Homo sapiens: one gene and its partners. The protein of the gene in region 2 binds, or shares a complex with, the protein of the main gene of each other region. Each region holds a gene or a part of one and is shown on either strand. Other genes may lie near its edges. The genes, in order: UNC79, NALCN and NALF1. A codon is read from its position in the direction of its gene.

What was found.
Region 1: the proteins of NALCN (region 2) and UNC79 are in contact, whole or in part, in a cryo-EM structure (PDB 7SX3), measured with the Homo sapiens proteins. Residues at the interface, in NP_001337678.1 of Homo sapiens: Gln349, Met350, Phe351, His352, Glu353, Gly358, Trp359, Gln360, Leu361, Phe712, Ser713, Ile714, Arg717; in NP_001333147.1 of Homo sapiens: Cys861, Gln862, Ile865, Glu968, Pro969, Asp970, Phe1020, Gln1022, Pro2088, Asp2089, Ala2092, Pro2093, Leu2095, Leu2096, Met2099, Leu2139, Pro2141, Asn2142, Gly2143, Ile2144, Gln2147, Leu2148, Ser2151.
Region 3: the proteins of NALCN (region 2) and NALF1 are in contact, whole or in part, in a cryo-EM structure (PDB 7CM3), measured with the Homo sapiens proteins. Residues at the interface, in NP_001337678.1 of Homo sapiens: Cys207, Val209, Asn220, Leu222, Ala223, Ile224, Pro225, Thr227, Tyr237, Pro240, Phe243, Tyr406, Glu409, Phe909, Ala1044, Lys1045, Asn1047, Pro1049, Arg1054, Ile1060, Arg1062, Ile1063, Asn1064, Val1065, Ser1066, Lys1069, Lys1080, Lys1081, Gly1083, Phe1084; in NP_001073865.1 of Homo sapiens: Lys278, Glu281, Phe282, Val285, His287, Lys288, Tyr289, Leu290, Gln291, Glu294, Tyr295, Ser296, Val297, Lys298, Ser299, Tyr308 (codon at 2,780), Trp311 (codon at 2,789), Leu312 (codon at 2,792), Gln315 (codon at 2,801), Leu335 (codon at 2,861), Gln338 (codon at 2,870), Thr339 (codon at 2,873), Cys341 (codon at 2,879), Phe343 (codon at 2,885), Ile344 (codon at 2,888), Leu345 (codon at 2,891), Pro346 (codon at 2,894), Asp347 (codon at 2,897), Asn348 (codon at 2,900), Asp349 (codon at 2,903).

The regions. Positions count from the first base shown.
Region 1 is NC_000014.9:93,699,920-93,707,028, forward strand, and holds part of UNC79 (protein unc-79 homolog), read left to right. Parts: intron 1-4,705; coding exon 4,706-4,747; intron 4,748-6,784; coding exon 6,785-6,985; 3' UTR 6,986-7,109. UniProt on the Homo sapiens protein: Auxiliary subunit of the NALCN sodium channel complex, a voltage-gated ion channel responsible for the resting Na(+) permeability that controls neuronal excitability.
Region 2 is NC_000013.11:101,413,499-101,420,571, reverse strand, and holds the start of NALCN (sodium leak channel NALCN), read left to right. Parts: upstream 1-4,063; 5' UTR 4,064-4,259; intron 4,260-7,073. UniProt on the Homo sapiens protein: Voltage-gated ion channel responsible for the resting Na(+) permeability that controls neuronal excitability. NALCN channel functions as a multi-protein complex, which consists at least of NALCN, NALF1, UNC79 and UNC80.
Region 3 is NC_000013.11:107,206,420-107,213,528, reverse strand, and holds part of NALF1 (NALCN channel auxiliary factor 1), read left to right. Parts: intron 1-2,773; coding exon 2,774-2,945; intron 2,946-7,109. UniProt on the Homo sapiens protein: Auxillary component of the NALCN sodium channel complex, a channel that regulates the resting membrane potential and controls neuronal excitability.

The DNA of each region.
Region 1 (7,109 bases), on a different chromosome or scaffold from region 2:
CCTTCTGCCCAAAGGATTTTCTGTAAAGTCTCCTGTGCAGGTCAGCTGGTGATTAATTGTTTTAGGTTTTGTATGTTTTAGAAGCTTTATTTTGCTTTCAATTTTGAAAGACAGTTTCACTGGGTATTGAATTCTAGATGGATGGTTTCGGAGGTTTTTTTTTTTTTTCAATACTTTAAAGATATTGCTCCTCCATTGTCTTTTTGCTTATATTGTTTCCAACAAGAAATCTGTCATTCTTATCTTTTTTGTCTGTATGTGATATGTCTTTTTTCCTCTGTTGTCTTTGCCACTATGGTTAAGCAATTTGATGATGCTATGCCTTGGTAGAGTTTTCTTCATATTTCTGGTGCTTGGGTTTGGTGAGCTTCTTGAATCTCTGGATTTATAGTTTTCATTAGATTTGGAAAAATATCAGCCATTGTTTCTTCAAATATTTTATTCAGTGCCTCTACTCAACATGCCCAATCTTTCTTCTACCTTCTTGACCATATTGAATATAGGTATCATAACTGTTTTAATGTCCTTGTCTGTTAGTTCTGTTATCTGTGTCATTTTTGTTTTATTTTCTGTTAATGGATTTTTCTCCTCATTCGTGTGTTTCTTTTGTTGTTGTTGTTTCTTAGCATGCCTGGTAATTTTTTATTGTATTCTTGACATTGTTAATTTGACTTTCTTGGGTGATGGATATTTTTATATTCATATAAAATATTCTTAAGCTGTATTCTGTGACATAGTTACATAACTTACAAATATCTTTATCCTTCTGAGGCTAACATTTAAGCTTTGTTAGGTATTGATCAGAGCAGCAATTTTTGTAGGGCACGTAGTTCTTCACTGCTGCTGCTGTATACCACTATCCTTATCAGTACTCTCATGATGTTCTATGAGTTATAAGATTTTTCCACTCTGACTAATAGGAACACAAAATATTCTTGGCCCTATATAATCACCAGGGGATTTTTTTCCTTCTAAGATTTTCGGGTCGTTTTTTCTCCAGTGTTGGGTAGTTTTTATAACTTGCATGTACTGGTCAGCACTCAGCTGAAGACTCAGGGGGATCCCTTTTCAGATCTTTGGAGTTGTCTCTCTCTCTGTAGATCTCTCCTGTCCAGTACTCTACCTTGAAAACTGTAGTCACTTTGACCTCCCAGGGCTCCTGGCTACCTCTCCTCACTCAGGAAGACTGCCAGGCTCCACCTGCATTCCTGCTGCCAGTGCTACTGCCTGAAAACTCTCTCTAGGCAGTGAGCTGGAATACCTGCAGGACTCACCTGGTTTGTTTCCTTTCCCTCAGTGATCTCTGTCCTGCATTTCTTGATGCTCAATACCTGAAAAACATTGTTTTTTATAGTTTGTCTGGATTTTTAGTTGTCCCAGGCAGGAGGGTAAATCTGGTCTTTGTTACTCCATCTTGGCTGAAAGAGAAAGTTTCATCACCAATTTTAATTTTGAGGGCTGGAATAAGCAGGATTGAAATGAGTACAGTCCAACCAGGCAGGAAGTCTTCCATTTGTTCTGTAGCATGAACCAAGATAAGAGGAAGGGTATCACTTTTATTCTTGTGAAAACCTATTTTTTAAATGTCCTTCAGTTTTCAGGATATTGTTTCTGAAGAGGGGGGAGAAAAAAAAGCCCAACCAACTTTACTCCATCATAACATTGCAGAGCCCAAAATAAATCACATCTAATTCTTACTGACAGATTTGTAGGAACCACTAGCAAAAGAGAATGAAAATGAAAGTTATTCAATAAGTCAAATTAACATTTCTGAAATAGGGTGATGGCTGGGTTATATAATGTCATCAATAATGATGAGCTTTAACTGGATACATTTAGTCACGTGATTTGCAAATCACAAACCTGAAGGTCCCTTGCAGGTATATTTTAGAATCACATGGTCATAGATTACATCAATGGGGAAATAATAAAAACACTTTTAGACCAACATCACTATTCCCCTTGCTTGCTTCACATGGACGCTTAGCCACAGTGGCAGCACTGGGAAAGGTATCCACCCAGGGACAGGGTACTCAGTACTCCCTGACCCTACTCTTCTCAAGTCCCTCACAATTCTTAACAGGAGGTTAGTTTGGGTATTTCCCAAATATCAAGAGGCGTATGGGCCCACTTCTGTATTAAATAGTCAAAGGTCAACAAAGTCTGTAGCATCAGCACCCTCCAGGGCTTGCTTTTTGCTGTGCAGAAATTATAGGGGGAGACAGTTAGACTAGATAAATTTTTTTTTTCCATTCAGAATGTCTAGAGGAGCCAGTCCTAGTAAGGGTCAGAGGGCACAGCCTTATCTGGTACCAATCTTTGTAATCCCACCGTTTTGTTATGAGGGTTGGGGGACAGGGGGAGGCATGGAGAGGGTGGCATCTTCTGATATTTTCAGCTTTAGTCTCATTACATTTTCTGATACACACCATACTCCATTTATAAACACAGTATTCATGTTAGAGACCAAGTGTTAGCTAGCTGCAACAGAAACACTACGTTTAGGAATGTTTAGGAGTAAATGTCAATAGAAGTCAAATTAGCGAATTATATACATCAACAGAATGTTAAAAGTCAAACAACAGCCAGATTTAGCCTTGGGAACAAAAACAGGGAGAGAAATGCAGCTTATCACTTCACCAAGTTCATTTTAAAGAAAATGTGATGAATTCAATGAAACCAGCAGCTTATGGCTATGACTAACTTTGAACTCTGAGGTCATTCACATACTGTCCCCCATCCCAAAAAGCTCTCCTTCGTCTTTGGTTTTGTTCATTACATCAGTGTCCCCCAGTTTGCCCAGGTTAGAAACCTCTACCTCTTCTTTGACCTTTTCCTCACTTGAAAGAGCAGACTCATCCTCAGATCCTCAAGATTTGTCTCTGCAGGTGGAATCCTTCCCCATCCCCAGAAACTGTCCCTGGTCTTCTCTGGACCATTGAGGCAACCTCCACAGTGGCTCTTGCCTCCATTCCCTGCCTCCTTCTTCACCCTAATCTGCAGGCTGCTGCCACGGTGATCTGTCTGGAGCACTGTTTTGCTCATGGTGAATAGAGCATCCCCTCTTCGGAAGTTGTATTGAATTTGGAATAAAATTCAGATCCCCTAATTTGGCATTTAGGGCCATCTGGTGGGCTAAGGGTGTGAAGGCCTGGCCTGTGCTTTTCTAAACTTGTTTTTCATGGCCGTTTTCTAAGAGCCTCACATGTCAGCATCACGTGACTGTCTCCCCTCCCCGACTCTCTGCACACTCCCACCAATGAGCTTCGCCATGCCTTCTCTCTGCTTCCTGGAATGCCCTTGTTCTGGCTTCCCAGGACTACCAAGGTATTACAGTCTGGGTGGTTCAACCAACAGAAATGTATTCCCTGGAAGTTCTGGAGACCAGAAGGCTGAGATCAAGGTGTCGGCAGGGTTGGTTTCTTTTAAGGGATTGGAGAGAGAATTTGTTCCAGACCTGTCTCCTAGCTTCTGGTGGTTTGCTGGGTCTTTGGGGTTCCTTGGCTTGTAGGTCCCTGTCTTCATCTTCACATAGCATGCTTTCTGTGTGTTTGTGTGTAGGTGTCTAAACTCCCCTTTTTATAAGGACACCCGTTATATTGGATTAGGGGCTCACCCTACTCAAGTATGACCCCATCTTAACTAATTTACATATTCAACAATCCCATTTCCAAATAAGGTCACATTGTGATGCAGTGCAGATTAGGACCTCAATATAGATTTTAATGGGGCACAATTCAATGCATGACAACACTACTCCTTTATTTGAGTGGAGGGTTGGAAGGAATATGGAGCGAAATGATATGATGCATATTGGTGTATTAAAGATCTGAGAAGTACTGAAATATAGAAACTAACATTTCCAAACCTATTGGATCGGAGTCCCCCTCCACCATTTAAAAGCTCTCCAAATTAGAGTGCCATGGGACACAGTTTGAGGAATGCCATATTCTGTCTCCGACTTCTGGATGCACAAGGCCATGAATATTTACTTAGATTTTAAAGGACTGAAACACGGAGGAGGGCCCAAAGCAGAGAGAAGGAGCAGCTTCTGGAGGTCCTCAGGCCAGGGCACCTATGACCTCCTCCCAGGAAGGACCACATCAGAGGGGTTGAGGTCCTGTCAGAGAGGCAGCAGAGGGCCAGGGTTCTCCAGCAGGGACTTGCTGCTTGGCTGTGTGTGCTCCCACACTTCGCAGACACCCGGCTCAGTCTCGCTGTATTACACCTTCCAGATCGCAGCCAGGCATCTTGGAGTGGTCTTTCTCGCTCACTTAAGTGTTCCATCCACTGACCAGAGATATTTTCTTAATGACTACAGGCAAATAGAGTCGCCATTCCACTCAGACACTCAGTTCTAAAGATCCTGTGGAGGAAATTCTATTTCAAGAAAGTGAGGATTTAATTAAATAAATACACATTTAATTTCCTGTGCTTGGTAGCTTTCGAGAGACAATCAGTCATTTACTCTAAAGTGTGTATCTCAGGCACTCATGGGGCGCTTATTAACCTCCAAATGCCACTGGCTCAGCGGGGTTTGGCCTCAGAAAGACATTTTGCTGATAACGGGTAGCCCTGCAGCAGGGCCCACATCCGTGCGCGACGTGAAAGGGATTCAATGTGGCCTGTTTTCCCTTGCAATGAGCGAAGCTTTGTGGGAGAATAGAGGACACTAATAATGAAGCTTTTGTCTTTCTCTATACAGCTGATACCTATGTGGTTGCCAATGATTCAGTCAAATATCAAGGTAAGTCACTCCCTGGGCTGATTGGAAGCTCGGTTTCCTGCAGAGAACGTATAACGTTCCTAGGGATTGTTGATGCTCCATTTACTATGGAGAAGGATGAATTCAACCTGCTCCTGGCCTTAGAGGGCTGATAATGCAGGAGACCTGTGGGCCAGGTAAGGGCTCTGCAGGCAGGGGGTGGCAGCAGGAACCATTGTCCTACTGCTTGAGGTTGGTGAGGATGCAGTGGAGGGCGGTATCCCAGGGTCTGAGCAAGCCTCAATCCACTGATGAGAGTACAGGCCGAGGCCGGGTGCAATGGCTTCTGTCTGTAATCCCAGCACTTTGAGAGGCCATTGTGGGAGGTTTGCTTGAGGCCAGAAGTTGGAGATCAGCCTGGGCAACATAGCGAGACCCCATCTCTGCAAAAGAATAAAAATTTAACTGGCTGTGGTGGCATGCACCTGTGGTTCTAGCTACTTAGGAGGCTGAGGTGGGAGGATCACTTGGAAGCCCAGGAGTTCGAGGCTACAGTGAGCTATGATCCTGCCACTGCGCTCCAGCTTAGGCAACAGAGTGAGACCCTGTCTCTATTTTAAAAAAAGAAATCAAAGAAATATAAATTGGAAATGAAAAAATAAACTGTCACTATTTGCAGTAACAAGATTGTGTATATATAGACAGAGCAAGACCCAGTCTCTCAAAAAAAAAAAAAAAAAAAAAAAAAGAGGAGTAGCATACCGACCCCTTGGAGGATACCTAGGCACATTCAGTGATGTGTCCTGGTTGCTAAAATGGATTTTCTATCATGAGAAGAATTCTGTTATGACAGGACAACCTCAAATAAATGATAGGATTGAGCTACAAGGAACCTACTGCCTCATTTTATATATGAAGAAATTTAGGACCAAAAGGAAGAGTGACTTGGTCAGGGCCCCACAGCCTAAAAGAGGAGATCCCGCCTGAATATGTTTCCCAGCCCCAGGCTTTGCCTTGACTGGCGCTTTGTCATTGTAGGGGCAAACATACTCTATGACCAGCAAACAGAGTTACTGGGCGTGACTTAAGATGGCAAAGCCAGCTGCCTGCTCCATCCAAACCGGGTCCTGTCTGTAGCACTAAGAGTGTCAGGGGGATGGGAGGAAAAGCTGGAAAGTTTTTTGCTGGGTTTCTTCTCCGAGTTGGGGAGGGATGCTAGTGGAAGGAAAGCGGTATGAACTCAGGGTACCCAGACACCAAAAGAGAAAAATGCGGCTGTCAACAATGACCACAGCCTTTGAGTCCTGATTACGGCCTTGGTGCTATTTGTGGCGGCCGTCGGGGGCATGGGCACTGCTGAAAACTGCCTCTCGGTACTAGTTTTTTCTGTGAAAAGAGAGTTTCTTGCACTCTCAGCTTGAAGCATTTTAAATTGCCTCTCTTACCCTTTCCCGGCTTTATGGCAATCTGTGGCGATTGCCCAGATGGCCAGGAGCAGGCCGACAGAACTCCCTAAGAAGCTTGGAGAAAGAAGAGAAGCTATCATCCTAGCTTCTTCATGTGCCAAGTTCTGTTCTGAGCACTTTTTTAACCCATTTGTCCTACACAAACCCCCTGAGTAAGTGTCACTATCCCCCCTTTACCCATGAGAAAACCCAAACACGGACCAATAAACCTTGTTCCCAAAGTCGCCTATAGAAGAGCCAGGCTTTGAACACAGGGATCCTGACAGCAGAACCCGGGCACTTCACCACCACACCAGGTCCCTGTCGTAAACAGTTCACTGGGGCCAAGTTTATGTGTTAGCCCAGCACTGGTGTGGCAGCTTTATGTTTTCATTGCAGTGAGTCTGTCAAGGTGAGCATGTCATTATTATGATGGGTTTGGGCCAGGACGACTCTAGAAAACACGGTGCGATCCCCCGCCCTGGGCACTGCCAGAGTAGAGAGTTTGCCTTCTTCAGGCCAGACAACCCTTGAGCCAAGCCTAAATTCTGCCTGCAAGAAGCCGCCCGGGTCGACACTCCCTGGGTTGCCCGTGAAAAGAAATAAACTAAAACCTCTTGCCCTTTTTCGACAGCACTTATCTGCGGGACTCCAGCTTCGCCTCCAGGCTATTCAGAACCACGTGAACCACCACAGCCTAAGGACGCTGCCGGGCTCGGGCCAGAGCAGTGCTGGCCTGGCAGCCCTCCGAAAGTGGTTGCAGTGCACTCAGTTCAAAATGGCCCAGGTGGAGATCCAGTCCTCGGAAGCAGCCTCTCAATTTTATCCTCTATGAGTGGACTCCTCGGCGCTCAGTGTCAACACTCTGGTTTAGCAATAATGGGTTTAAAAACAAACAATTTGATCCAAGCAGGTTGGGGAACATATTGGTACTGTACATTCTCTTTCTAGTTTAGTAA
Region 2 (7,073 bases):
TTTAAGTTAAGATATATATATATTTTAGTATACAGTACAGTGTATACATAACTTATATATGCATTGGAATATAAAAAAAAATTGTGTGACTTGCCTCATTGTGATATGTACTTTATTGCATTGGTCTGAAACCAAATTGCACTGTCTTCCAGGAACGCCTGTACATGTAAATCCATGTTAGTGAGGCAACAAGCAGGAGATGCCTATTAGTTAGCCTGTTTACATTTTTAGGTGTGTATTCTAAACCTTAATTTTCCCTGCCCAAAGAGCATCTAAAAGTTCATCATAGCAATATTTGGTGACATGTGGGTCTTGAAATCACAGAACATAAACAAGTGTATACGGATTAAAACTAATCTTAGGCCGGGCGCGGTGGCTCACGCTTGTAATCCCAGCACTTTGGGAGGCCGAGGCGGGTGGATCATGAGGTCAGGAGATCGAGACCACGGTGAAACCCTGTCTCTACTAAAAATAAAAAAAAATTAGCCGGGCGTGGTGGCGGGCGCCTGTAGTCCCAGCTACTCGGAGAGGCTGAGGCAGGAGAATGGCGTGAACCCGGGAGGCAGAGCTTGCAGTGAGCCGAGACTGCGCCACTGCACTCCAGCCTGGGTGACAGAGCGAGACTCCATCTCAAAAAAAAAAAAACCTAATCTTAATGAGAGTCTCAAAAATATTACAGTCTTGTGTAGTTACTAAAGCATAATCTACTCATAAATCAAATGAAACATAATTATATTCGAGCAGAATTCTTCTCCAATTGATTCAGTGTCTATATTTCCATAGAGCACAGGACAGTCCCTCCATGGATTTTCAAATTTCTCTTTTAGCATGCCTATTGTTTTCCCAGTAACTCACCATGGTGTCCAGTGAAATACTAATTAAGGTGGAAATAAGCAGTAGGAACAAATGAGTTAGTGAAAAACAAATACCCTGTTTTCATCAAATTCTTGCTGTCTTGCATTTCATAGCTACTTCCTGTATTATTAGTCTGTTCTCATCCTGCTGATAAAGACATACTGGAGACTGGGTGATTTACAAAGAAAAAGAGATTTAACGGACTCACGGTTCCCCATGGCTGGGGAGGCCTCACAGTCATGGTGGAAGGCGAAAGGCACGTCTTACACGGCAGCAGACGAGAGAAAATGAAGACCAAGAGAAAGGGCCTTATAAAACCATCAGATCCCATGAGACTTATTCACTACCACAAGAACAGTATGGGGGAAACTGCCCCCATGATTCAATTATCTCCCACCAGGTCCCTCCTACAACACATGGGAATTGTGGGAGCTACAATTCAAGATGAGATTTGGATGGGGACACAGACAAATGATATCACATCCATTCCAAAGCACTTGCAGGACCATGAACACAATTTCATTTAAACCAAAGGCTACTACTATCTTGGTTGTGCATTGGCTTGGCTTCATCCTCTTTATTGTAAAACTTTCTGTATTGACTGCTTTCTCTGTGTTTGACATTATCCTTTCCCCAATCTCATACCGTCAAATACAGATTTAATTGTATAGGCTCCTACATGCAAACACCTTCCAGGGCCAGGAATTGAAGCAGGCTGGGGACATGGAGGCAAATGGGAAGTATATGCCCACCTATGGGAGGCACAGGATGCCCCTATTGGCCCCCTACCACTTGGGAATGCAGAACTGACCTGGCCAGATCTTCCTTCCTTTTTTTTTTTTCAAGACGGAGTCTCACTCTATCACCCAACCAAGCTGGAGTGCAGTGGCACAATCTCAGCTCACCACAACCTCTGCCTCCCCAGTTCAAGTGATTGTCATGCCTCAGACTCCTACAGGTATGGTGGCTTACGCCTGTAATCCCAGCACTTTGGGAGGCCAAGGTGGGTGGATCACCTGAGGTCAGGAGTTCGAGTCCAGCCTGGCCAACATGGCAAAACCCCGTCTCTACTAAAAATACAAAAATTAGCTGGGCATGGTGGAGGCTGCCTGTTATCCATATCTTCCTATTTTTCCTGATAAAATAAAATTCTTGTGGTTTTCAAATGTTGGTAATTGATCTTAATTTGTCAACAATATACATTGAGTCATACAAAACACACCTGAATTATATTCTCAGTTTATATTGAACCCACAGGCCAGCAATTGACTTTTACTGGATTCCAGCAATGAATGTAGTTACAGGGCCAATTCAACCTGGAAAAGATATTTGTTCATCCTTTCTACTTTTGCTTTGAGGATGCAGTGAGCTATAATCACATCAATGCACTCCAGGCTAGGCAACGGAGATAGGCCTTGTCTCTAAAAATAACAAAGAAAACAAAAGAAGAGAGATACTGAGCAGGTAGAAGGGGTACTATGATATTTTGGATGTACCTGTTTTTTAAAATGATTGTCTACTCCAATACACAGTGAATCCCTATGCATTATAGGATGAGTGTGCTGGATTCCATGACTTCCTTGAAGCCCATGAATTCTCTGAGACTGTCTCCATCATCATTGGGATTGTTTGGCTCATGAGCATGAATTATAGAGACTTAACAGAGGTAGTTCAACCAAGGACAGAGAAAGGTCTGAAATGCCTGTTGGGTGAGGAGTGGCACTGAGATTAGTAAAAAATCACTGCCTTGACCACTTCAAAACATTATAAATAAATGTTTAAATATTTCCTTAATATAATTTACTAACAGATAATTCGAACGAATGTCAAGGAATAACACACTATCATTCAGCTACCATATATATATAGCTATATATTTCAGTTTGTGAAATAAACTAGTATTTAGAACAAGCAATTGAAAGCCGCAAATAAAGATGATGAAACAAGTTGGTAAATACTTTTTCTAAGCAAACTGGTTGTAGATTTAGCATTGTTTAAATTACTGTCAATTTTTTCTTATGAGGAGTGATTTCATCATTTGTTTAAAACCTGGCTTTTGACACAGTTTTTCTGAAGTCTTTAGAAATTTGAAAAATTATCTCGCATGACTCTGTATTTCATGAAATACCAATATTTTAACATTTCCCTGTAAACAATAAAACGTACTAATATGGATTATGAATGTGAACAAATTGTGAATGGACTTTTTAAGAAAGTAGATTAATTAAATATCTGTAACCAGAAAATACATTTTTAAAATGTAGGTTTGTGTAGTTTTACTTCTATACCTTGCCACATAACATTTTGTGATAGACAAATGCTCTTTGTTTAGAATTTCTCTTGTAGAGAAAGCTTCATTCAGTTGTTTCTTTCCCTTTATTTATATGCCTGTGTGCATGATGTCTAAATCACTGGTCAGGAGTTCCCTGGGGATTTTCGTATCTGACTACATGGCAAGATTCCAGACCCAAAGTAAACCTTTCAGAGAGTGGGAATGAGTGGGAGGATGTCGCCCTGGGCATGGTGCTTAGGAGGCCAGATTTCCCTAAACCTGCTCTGCTGGGAGCCCTAGGAAGCCTCAGATGCAGTCTGCTGTCCAGGTATACTCACAGGGTATGGGGTGGGGGACTGTCAATTTCTGAATAGACTTTGTCTCATCCACACGACAACATATTTTAATTTTAAAGGCGAACGTCAACCTATTTAGAAAACTATAAGTGTGACTGATGCATTCATTATTTAATAACTCCGGGGTGAAACTTGAGGTGAACGGTTTCACCCTTTCATACTCAGGAATGGAACTAGTCCTCGGTACCGTGCACAGTCTGACCTCACGCTCGCACGCTGGGCTCCCGGCCTCCTGGCAGTGCACTTAAGTGTACCCCGCGTGTGCCCGGCGGACTCCCGTGCACACCGCCGCCGTGCTGTTGAGTACGAAAGACCCCCGAGAGGAGCTCGCAGATGAGAGCCTAGCTGTTGCTGTGAGACTGACTGCGGGTGGCAGCCGGCAAGAAGGAACTGCCAGTACCGACCCTGGCGCTCCCCACCAACTGCGGCGCAGCCTCCTCTGCGGTGCCCGCCCTTCGGCATCACTGCAGTCCCTGTAGCAAAGCTAACTTTAAAAATTTAAATAAAATAATAATTTTTTAAAGGCCCGAAAACTCCGGCTCCCACCCCTCCCCCAGCCTGCCCGGCGGCGGCGGCGCTCAGTGAGTGACACGGCGAGCGTGAGCCGCGGCCCCAGCCGGGCCGAGCGCGCTGCCTGAGCTGAGCCGCCGTAGGTGAGGGGCCCGCGTCCCCGCCCGCCCTGGGCGCCGCGCCTGGCACTGATCCTGCCGGTCGCCCACTGTCGCCGCCGCCGCCGCCCGCGGGCACCATGACAGCTCTGAGCGCTGGGGTTACAGGTTGGTCACCGCCGCCGGTGCCCGGGAGGCTGCGGCGCGGCCGGCTCCGTGCCCTGCGCCCGAGGCCCGCGATGCGCGCTCGTTAGTTCCTTGGCCGGTCCGGGCCAGGACGGCTCAGGGGCGCTGGGGCTGCGAGAGGGGCTGCTAGAGGGGCTGCGGGCGGGGGCCCCGCGCGGGGGAGGGGTGGGGAGGGGCGCCTCCACCCGAGAGCGGGGCGGTGGGGTCCTTGCCGGCCTGGCCGGGGCGCGGGAGCCGCGATGCGCCCTCCCTATTCCTGCGCGTGGGTGTCGGGGGCGCCTGCCGCGGGATGCCCCTGGGCTGGCTTGGGAAGCCCAGGGCCGGCGACACCTCGGGCCTGCCCCGCCTGGGCATCTAGCAGGTGTTGGGGGGCAGGTGGCTGAGGACGAGGCCACTGGGCATCACTACAGCGCTGCACCTGCCCCCTCGGCACCAGGGCCGCTGCCTGGGTAAACCTCTGGGCCAACGCGCGGGTGGGGAGGTGGGGGTGGGCAGCCTGGCTCCAGCAGGTCTCCGCGGGGGCTCCGCGGCCTTGCCCCACCCCCATGCTCCTGTGGATTGCTCCTTGCTAAATGTCCCTTATGATATTCATTGGCCTTGTTAAGCAGCCGTCATTAGGGTGGCTACACCGAACGCAAAACAGTGTCCTGCCAAGCAACACCATTTTGTCACTGAATCTTTAAGACACCAGCAAGGATGGCCTGGCTGGGATCCCTCTGGGGGCCCAGATCGCAGTCATTTTGCTGACTTAATGTTCCTCTTTCAGGATGGTGTGAGAATGCTGAACTCAGACCCTTAGTGCTTGAAATACCTTAGAATAAATCTTTCAGTTTCAGGTACAATTTTTCAGACACTGTATTATTAAGGATGTGTGAATACACGCTCACTTTCAGGCCTCAGAAGGTTTTACTCTTAATCTGGTGTTCGTGTGGTCATCAGCTAGGCCCGACTGCCCTGGTGGTGAAATGTGGGTTGAGGACCAGTGACCTTCGTGTTAGTAGTTGGTGGATAACACCTCTAATAGGGGATCAAAAATTAACAGGTGGCGATTTTGAAATATATATGTATGTATATATATATATATATGTGTGTGATTTGTATGTTCATAACTACAACTGTGATTTGATATGGCCTGGGAGAGGAGCGGTTTCACTATGGTAGTTACCCCTGAGGCAGATGCATCTCAGGACTGGCTTTTTAAATTCAAAGATAAGGTTTCCACAGTTCTAAATAAAAATCATGGCTTCCCAAACATCTGCAACGAGAAACATTTACTCCCTAACTGGTTGGCTGTCATTCTGCGTGCTTTTCTAGAGTCGATTTTTCGTTCTTCTGTAGTATACTTTGACCTAGCCACTGCTAAAACCAGACAGTGTGAAGACAAAATCCAGCTTTGGAGAAAAACTTAAAAAGTGAAAAGGTTCAGTTGGATCCTCTTCTGTGTTCATAGAAGACATAATCTGTTTGCAGAATAAATGTGCCGTCACTGATAAGGACTATGCTAAAATCTCTACAGAACTCTAGGAGAAAGCATGTCTTATAAAATAGTGGTTGTACACTTATAACTTTGGATAGGACTTGCAAGATATTCAAAGGAGAAATGTACTTAAAAAATGTACTTAAAAAAAGTCTACTCAAAATAGTGTCATTTAGTTGCAATTTAGTGAACTGAAGATTTGAGTAGCATTTTCTTCTTCTTGGGTATGGCATTTCTTTGAAATGGTTTCCAGGTGATTTTATCATTCCGGCATGCTTTGTGTGTGCATGTATGTGTATACACAAATGTACACATTTGTTTTATCATTTATCGATGATGTTCAGATAATTTCAGAATTTCCATAGCTGTATAAATTTATCCCAGGTCAGAGTCACATGTGGATTTCAAGTTTGTGAATGAAAATTCACATCTACACCTCTATATCCTAAGATAAGCTAAGCACTGGGCCAGAAGCTGGGTGGTGAGTGAGAAAAAGAGATAAACTGAGAGCCTAAGAATCCTTCAGGAAAGACAAATATGTAAGCAGGTGGATATACAGTGAGATGTCTTATTTTCTAGTTTTGCTGTGGAAACTATGATAGTGAGCTTAAACATATTAAGAATGGTCCCCAAGGCCACACACGGTGGCTCATGCCTATAATCCCAGCACTTTGGGAGGCCAAGGCAGGCCTATTGCTTGAACCCAAGAGTCCAGACCAGCCTGGGCAACATGGTGAAACCCCGTCTCTACAAAAAAAAAAAAAATTCACCAAGTGTAGTGGTGTACACCTGTAGCCCCAGTTACTTGGGAGGCTGAGGTGGAAGGATCGCGTGAGCCCAGAGATGTCAAGGCTGCAGCAGGCTATGATGGCACCACTGTACTCTAGAATGGGCGACTGGGCACAGAGTGAGACTCTGTTTAAAAATAAAAAAAGAATGCCCCTGTCCCAAAATGTTATCAACATTTTAGAGCTTCACTCATGTTATACAATTCTCGCCTGTCTCAAGGACCAGCACAGATTTTCATACCTTCAAACTCTATGCAAATGCTTAAATTTTTTTAATTGATTTTTTGAATTTTAAAGTAACCAAAGTTGATAGAGATGATAGAATGATAGAGAAAAAAGAGTAAACAGCTAGTTTTAATAACCGAAGACAGATGACCACAATATCTGTGTGTTTTTTGTAGTCTTTTTAAGGGCTTGACTTCAGGTAGTTGTCATCGTGGCATTGGACAACTTTTATACTGTTTTTACCACTGAATATTTATTATAAATATTTAAAATATTTCTATATAATTTTCTTACTTAAAAATTGTA
Region 3 (7,109 bases), 5.8 Mb from region 2:
CTTGTTTTCTGATGTATCTTACCCCTAGAGCTAAAATTTTAGAAAATATTTAATACTCAAATGAGGAATATTCATTGCACACTCAAAGCCCAGGAGGTAGCTCATAACGGATGCCACCGTGGAGCCTGGCCGGAGAGGTCGTCATAGCTCAGTGTATAAGGTCTGGGATTCTGCCGGCGGCTTTGCAAATGATGCTCGATCACTTTTCTTCATAACTAACTACTACCTGATACTTAAAAAAAAATGCTGTGATCTCTTACTAGTTTCTTTTTCTTTTCTTTTTTTTTTTTTTTTTTTTGAGTTAAAAAAAAATCTGCAAAGGAAATATAGCGGAAATAGAATTTAAGGAGCCAGAATAAAAATGGATATGTTCCCATCGGGCAATGCTGAGGAAAGTGGTTGCAAAGAGGATGGCTAGATCTGAAGAGACTCCAATACTGGACGCCCCACCGTCTGCGAGAGAGGAGACGTTGTTTCTTAAGACTTTATGGCTGCAGGATGCGATTCCCTATTCAGAACCCATTTTAACTGGAATAACGGTGGAAAGGCAACGTGTGAGGGAGCGGTGGGAATGGGGACCCCAATTTGGCCAATGAAAACATGAGCCACTTTCTGGCATTACATAGGGCACTCCTTAAAGAAAAACAGGCAACTCTAGACTTTAGAATCCCAGAAATGTGCGGAAAGCAAGCTGTCCTCATAATGGAATGTTATTTTTTGAACTGCAGGTATAAGCCTATCCTGCTTCCTCTAGTACCTGAGAAAGGTTATTAAGCCCAGGAATCAGAGGATACATGGCTCATTCCTATACTACAGCTTAGTTTACATAATAAATGTCATGTCATATTACGTATCATGTCATATTACACAAACGTCAATGTCTATGGCATTTTGACAAACGTTTTCAACTTCCCCATGGTTTGGTTAAGAAATCATTTCACTTTTTCTTCTGAAGCTGGTGCTTCCAGCCTCTTGCTGCCGGCACCACCTCCACCTTCACCTGTCCCCCTGAGGCAGCCTCTTGCTGTCCTCCTGGGGCACACAGCCACAGCCCACCTCCGTTTCCCAGTTGGCATAAGAATTCTTAGAGGTTTCTTCGGCTATTGTAACGTTTTCTTCTAGTGCAGTTTTTCAGTGTACACTGTTACGAGAAGACTCATTCAAAAGACCTATAAGAATTCTAATTATTTGTAGGTTTTACTAACAAGTTACATGGTGATTGTGAGCCATTGATGACTGGCAAAGAAAAATTACTTTTGGCCATTTAAAAGTGTATCTCACTTTGATATTTATCTCATTTTACCTCTACCAAGTCACCTTGATCACAGAATAAAGCGTCATTTTGATCAACCTAATGTTATGAATAAAAAAATACAATCCTCCTTCTACCAAATAGATATTGACCCGGGGCATGGAAGGCCATGCTGATTTTAGGTTCATCTGCAAACTCCCTTGTGATTTCATAAGTGCTTTAAAAGTAGTTTTCAGATTAAATATAGGATAACTATTAGGAACACAGTCTTTGGAGCCCTACAGAACATGGGTTTGAAGTCTGGATTTTCCATTTCCATTACCTAATAGTACTATTACTTAATATTATTCCTGTTCAAAATGTGAGTAATAGTTATGGTCAAAAGTGCATGCTGAGAATCACATGGAAAAAAAAGTTTACAGCTTACTTAGAAAAGAGTATAAAGTTGATAAATACCAGCTATTATTCTTGTTATTATTAGGTATTTATAATCTCTTAGGCTACCTTTAACTGCTGCGCCTCCATTTTTCTAGGTAAAATATAACCGGCAAAATGTTACTTGGATAATATTAACCCTAGAAATAGATAAGTAAAAGCCATTAGTGCCAAGGACCTGGAGAATAACTGAATTTCAGTAACCTGTACTGCAAATTGGTACATCTGCCATTGTTGTATTTGAATTTAAGATCAGCTTATTCCTTCGTGTCAGAAAAAGGCAATTTTTTCAATGTTTGTTTTCCCAAATAGCCACCAAAACAAAGAGATGAATGAAGTCCCAGTCCTTTCACATTTGATGAAATTACATAAATACGTAGCAAACATTGATGTGGCTTGCACATCATCCAGAAGGTTGAAGCTGTGGCTCTGATGAGGCTTCCCTCCTACTCCCAACCACACCACAGCATATGATGTCTGCTCTATGTCGGGTGTTTCTGGGCTTTCAGACAGTGAGATTTTTAATGCATTTGGTGTGAGTCATGAATGTAAATGTCCATATCTGCCTGTTCTCTGCCTCTCAAAGTCCAAGATCTAAACAGCAGTTTCCCAACCCCTGCTGGGCCATCTTTATAAAGTGCTTCGCGCCATCTAGCGTCCTATGGAGGCATAGACGTGGGACTCCGTGTGGAGGGAACTGGCTCATCAGCCACGTTGCAAGTAACTACAGCACAGAAGAGCAATAGAGTCAATTATTTATTTTACTTTAGATATCGCTGAATTTTGAAAAATTAACTTCCTGCTTAAATCCACTGATTTTCAAATAAGCCACATAAAATTAAAGGTCAAAATACCTTTTACATTCTATTAGGGATGCAATCAAATACTGTTTTGCTTTTATTGCGGAGACTTTCGTTGCTGTGTTTTTATCACTTGCAGCTGTCGTTGTGTAAATACGCTTTCTCACAATGAGGGCTCTCTTAGGATCCACTTGAAACCACAGCACGCTTGCACGCTTCTCACAGTGCCTCTATCACTGTAACTGTTGTCACGCCTCTATATTTTTCATTCTTCTCTTTTTTTCAGATTGTCTACAAAGCCTGGCTCTGTTCCCAGTATTTTGAAGTCACACAGTTTAACTGCAGAAAGACAATTCCTTGCAAGCAATACTGTTTGGAGGTTCAGACGAGGTGTCCATTTATATTGCCCGACAATGATGAAGTCATCTACGGAGGCCTCTCCAGTTTCATCTGTACAGGTACAGTGCCGGGTGGGAGTCTGTACACCAGTCTCCGGTGGTTTTGCTTTCTTGTGTGATGTTTGTTTGCTTTGCTGTTTCCTTTCACTGATATAACCTTGAAGATGCGGCTGGTAGTTTTCCGCACTTTCACTAATAGAAGCACCGAAAGCTCCCCTCAACAGGTCTGGAAATGATTCAGCTTCTGTACCACATGGTCTATCTGTAACTGAGACCACAGTTATTCACTGTGTGAAAGAAGAAATCTGATGGCAAAATATTAGCAATCATTAGATATACTTACATGTGACCTAGTATAGGTTAGATTCAGCCTGCATTGCCTTTGAATTCCATAAGAACAGGAGATGTGCTAAGGCCAGTGAAATAATGCTTTTCAAATTAGTCAGAAGTTTATGTTCTCTTGCCTATTTTCTTTTATTTTATTTTCTGAGAATTTTTATGTTACTTTATCTGTAAAAAGTATTAAGAGCATTAAAAATATCTGCCTAAATTGTACGTGTGTGTGTGTGTGTGTCTATTAGAGCCACACAACAAGTCTATCCATTAAACGATGTTTACTTCTTTCAGCAAATGAGTCAGACTGGGCAAAACACCAATATCAGCACTCCTTTTCTGGATATTTATAAGCATTACATAATTTAGACAGAATAAGATATAAAGAGCAAGAGCCTTTTTTTAAAAAATAAAAAGATAATTAAATGGTGAGAACAAGATACTTTGCCAGGGTGGTGTGATAATCCGAGTGGTGGCTCTGCATTCTCTTCTATAACAATAATGCTATAAGGCGTCCCTGGAATTACGTGGCTCAAGCTGTAGCACGTTTTGTTTTCAAGTGTAAGGATAAAACACCATCATATGTGTAGAGACACATGAAAATGCTCTTCTGACATTAGACTTGCCAAACTCCTCTAAAACAGAGTAGCATATTAAGATGCTCAACATGAGAATTTATCAAATTATTTCAGCATCGCTTATTTACATACGTATTCATTAGCCACAGTGTTCTAAGTGATAAGCTATCAAGAGATAGTCTGCCAAAGCTCGCCCTAAGAACTGGATGAGTATTTCTTTCTTTTTTTTTTTTTGAGATGGAGTCTCGCTCTGTGTCACCCAGGCTGGTGTGATCTCGGCTCACTTTAAGCTCCGCCTCCGGGGTTCAAGTGATTCTCATGCCTCAGCCTCCCGAGTAGCTGAGATTACAGGCGTGCACCACCACACCTGGCTAATTTTTGTATTTTTAGTAGAGACGGTGTTTCACCGTGTTGGCCAGGCTGGTCTCCAACTCCTGACCTCAAGTGATCCACCCTCCTTGGCCTCCCAAAAGTGTTGGAATTACAGGCGTGAGCCACTGTGCCCAGCCTGGATTAGTATTTCTTATGCTGCCCAAGCTTGTGGAAAGAACACGTGACTGAAGGTCAGGAGCATTGGCCTTCATCCTGTTTCTATTGTACATTCTCTCAGAGGCACCACCCCTTCACTAGTAAATTAGAAAGTGCAATGGCCAAACCCTCCCCCATGTGGATATGCTGCAAGGATTACAGATAAGAGAGAAGGGCAAGTTATGTCATTGACCAGCCATAGCCGTTGCACACGAGAAAGTGAAATGCAGAATGATTTCACAGGCCTGTGTGTTATTCTACTGACTTGATGCTCAAGTCATTTTTTATGTAGCTCCTCTCTGCTGGAGGGGGAGGAGGGGGAGGAAGGAGGGAAGAGGGAAAGAAGGAATAAGGGAAGGAGGGAAGGAGGATATCAATATCTTCTTGCTTTGAGTTTGAGACAAAATTCACCAGACACAGGCTATTAATTCATATTGAATTTTGCATACAACATTCCACAAATAACCATGAAGATAAGGCCTTCATTTTTTTTTTCTTGTGGGACAATGAGGTGTCTGTGACATGAGGACTTCAGAGAAGCTATTCGATTTTTATGTACAGGTTGTGTTTATGCATTTACACTCACATTGGCTTTTGTCCTAGAGAAGAACAATAGTTTTTGAACCAAGTTCTCAAAGTAGACAAAAAACCCAAATGAAGGGCGAGGTGTTTGCGTTTATCTTCTTTTTCCTACATGTATCTGTATTTGTGAATCTGAAATATATGTTTGAATGTTCACCCACTTCCTCCATACACATTCAGAATGCCAGGGTAGAATTAAATCTCTCACTTCACAACATGGGCAGAGAATCCAGTCTGCAGTTTTAATTGTTTTCGAGTTTGGTAAAAACAGCTTCTTCATAGACATAGCTACGTCATTAAGGAAAAGTGGCAGGAAAAGAGAGATTTATCAGATCCAGAGAAAAGTGCCATCTCCGTGAGAGGCCCCCTAGGATAATCTCATCACTGAACATTTGGAAACCTAAGAACAGTAGTTCTTATGTCACTTTCAGTTGGGTTAATGTTCATTTTATGTTTAAATTGCTCGAAAATATATGGAATAAATTCTGAGGTTATTTCACCCTGAAGTTCTGTAAAACAATCTGACAGAAAAAGATAATAATTTTCATATTGATCTTCTTTTCTAAGGTGTGACCTGTGCCTCTTTGAAGAATTCTCATTCATGTTGATAACTAGCAGCCATCATTTCCCATCATCGGTTACAGGTGTCCCTTAAGAGTGCACTGCTGAGGCCAGATGCAGTGGCTCATGCCTGTAATCCACACAATTTTGGTAGGCTGAGATAGGAGAATTGCTTGAAGCCAGGGGTTTGAGGACAGTCTGGACAACGTAGCAAGACCCTGCCTCTACAAAAAATTAAAAATAAAAGAACTAGCCAGACACAGTTATGTGCACCTGTAGTCGCAGCTATTTGGAAGGCAGAGACAGGATTGCTTGAGCTCAGGTGCTGGAGATTGCAGTGAGCTGTGATCCTGCCACTGCACTCCAGCCTGGGCAGCATAGCGAGACCCTGTCTCAAATGAAAAAGAAAATGAAAGAGTGCACTGCTGGACCTGAGCAAGGAGATTTCTACTCCTGTCCATCACAGCTGCCTGCCCGTTGCTTATAAGAGTCCCAGACATGGGCCCCAGAATGGGTTTCATCTTGGATGATGTTAGAATAGAGGACAGCTCCCAGAGGACCACTGGCTAAACTGTGGAGTGGCTTGTCATGCGTCTAAGGAAACTAGTAAGACATATGTGCATATAATTTGTTCCCAGATTTTAAGTTGCACATTTTTGGATGTCCGTCTCCTACAAATGTACACGGATTTTTAAATAGTTTACATTATAAATAAGTTTGCAAGTAAATGTGAGCCATTTACATTCTGTTTTTTTTCTCTGAAAACAGAATAATAAAAAGACCAGTGTAGTTATAGCATCATTTAATCTCATACAAAATATTTTAATAAATATATCAAAGTTTAAGGGAAAAAAGAAATGGGAAGGGAGATGGTATGCCCAGAATAAAATAAAAAAATGAGAGTAGGTTATGAAACCAAGTAAAATGCAGTAACTTCATCAAAAAGAATTCACCAAGTAAGGTGACCTTCCTCTTGCCTCCAGCAATTTTTCTTTTTGAAAAAAATCATCAAGCATTTGATTTCCACTCTAGATGTTAAAATGCAATCATTTCTCACTAAGAATTAAAGGAATAGGTGGAGTTTCCTTCAAATTCAACAGATTTAATTATAATGGTTTTCCTACTATTTGAACTGCATCCAATTCACAGCTTCCAGAAGGACGGAGAATTCCCTCTAGGATATCGAGGATTCTTCACTTACTTTTCTTATTGACCTCAAAAAAAAGTATTCTGTAAGCACGTAACTGCACATGGCCTGATGACAGATACTGTCCATGTGAGCATCAGTTTTCTTCAAGGTGCTTCTCCTTAGTGACAAACCAGTGGCATGGTGATTCCTTTTCTTAGCGTTCTCTGTACCCAGAATCTTAGAGATCTCAAGTTCTTCCTGTCATTGTCCTATTGGCTATATACTGATACCTAGGATTCCTATTATTCACAAAAAAGGGAATATCACCCCTTGGAATCAATGAACAATTTCTGTAAATGATCAGGAGTTATTTACCATTTTGGTCACACTTACTAAATTCAGTATCTCGTGCATCATTTCTTTATGGTGCTCACATCACCATGTACCAAATTTGAAAGTTTTAAATGTATATATTTTTGATCATCTGCTACCTATGATCCTTTAGTAAGCCAG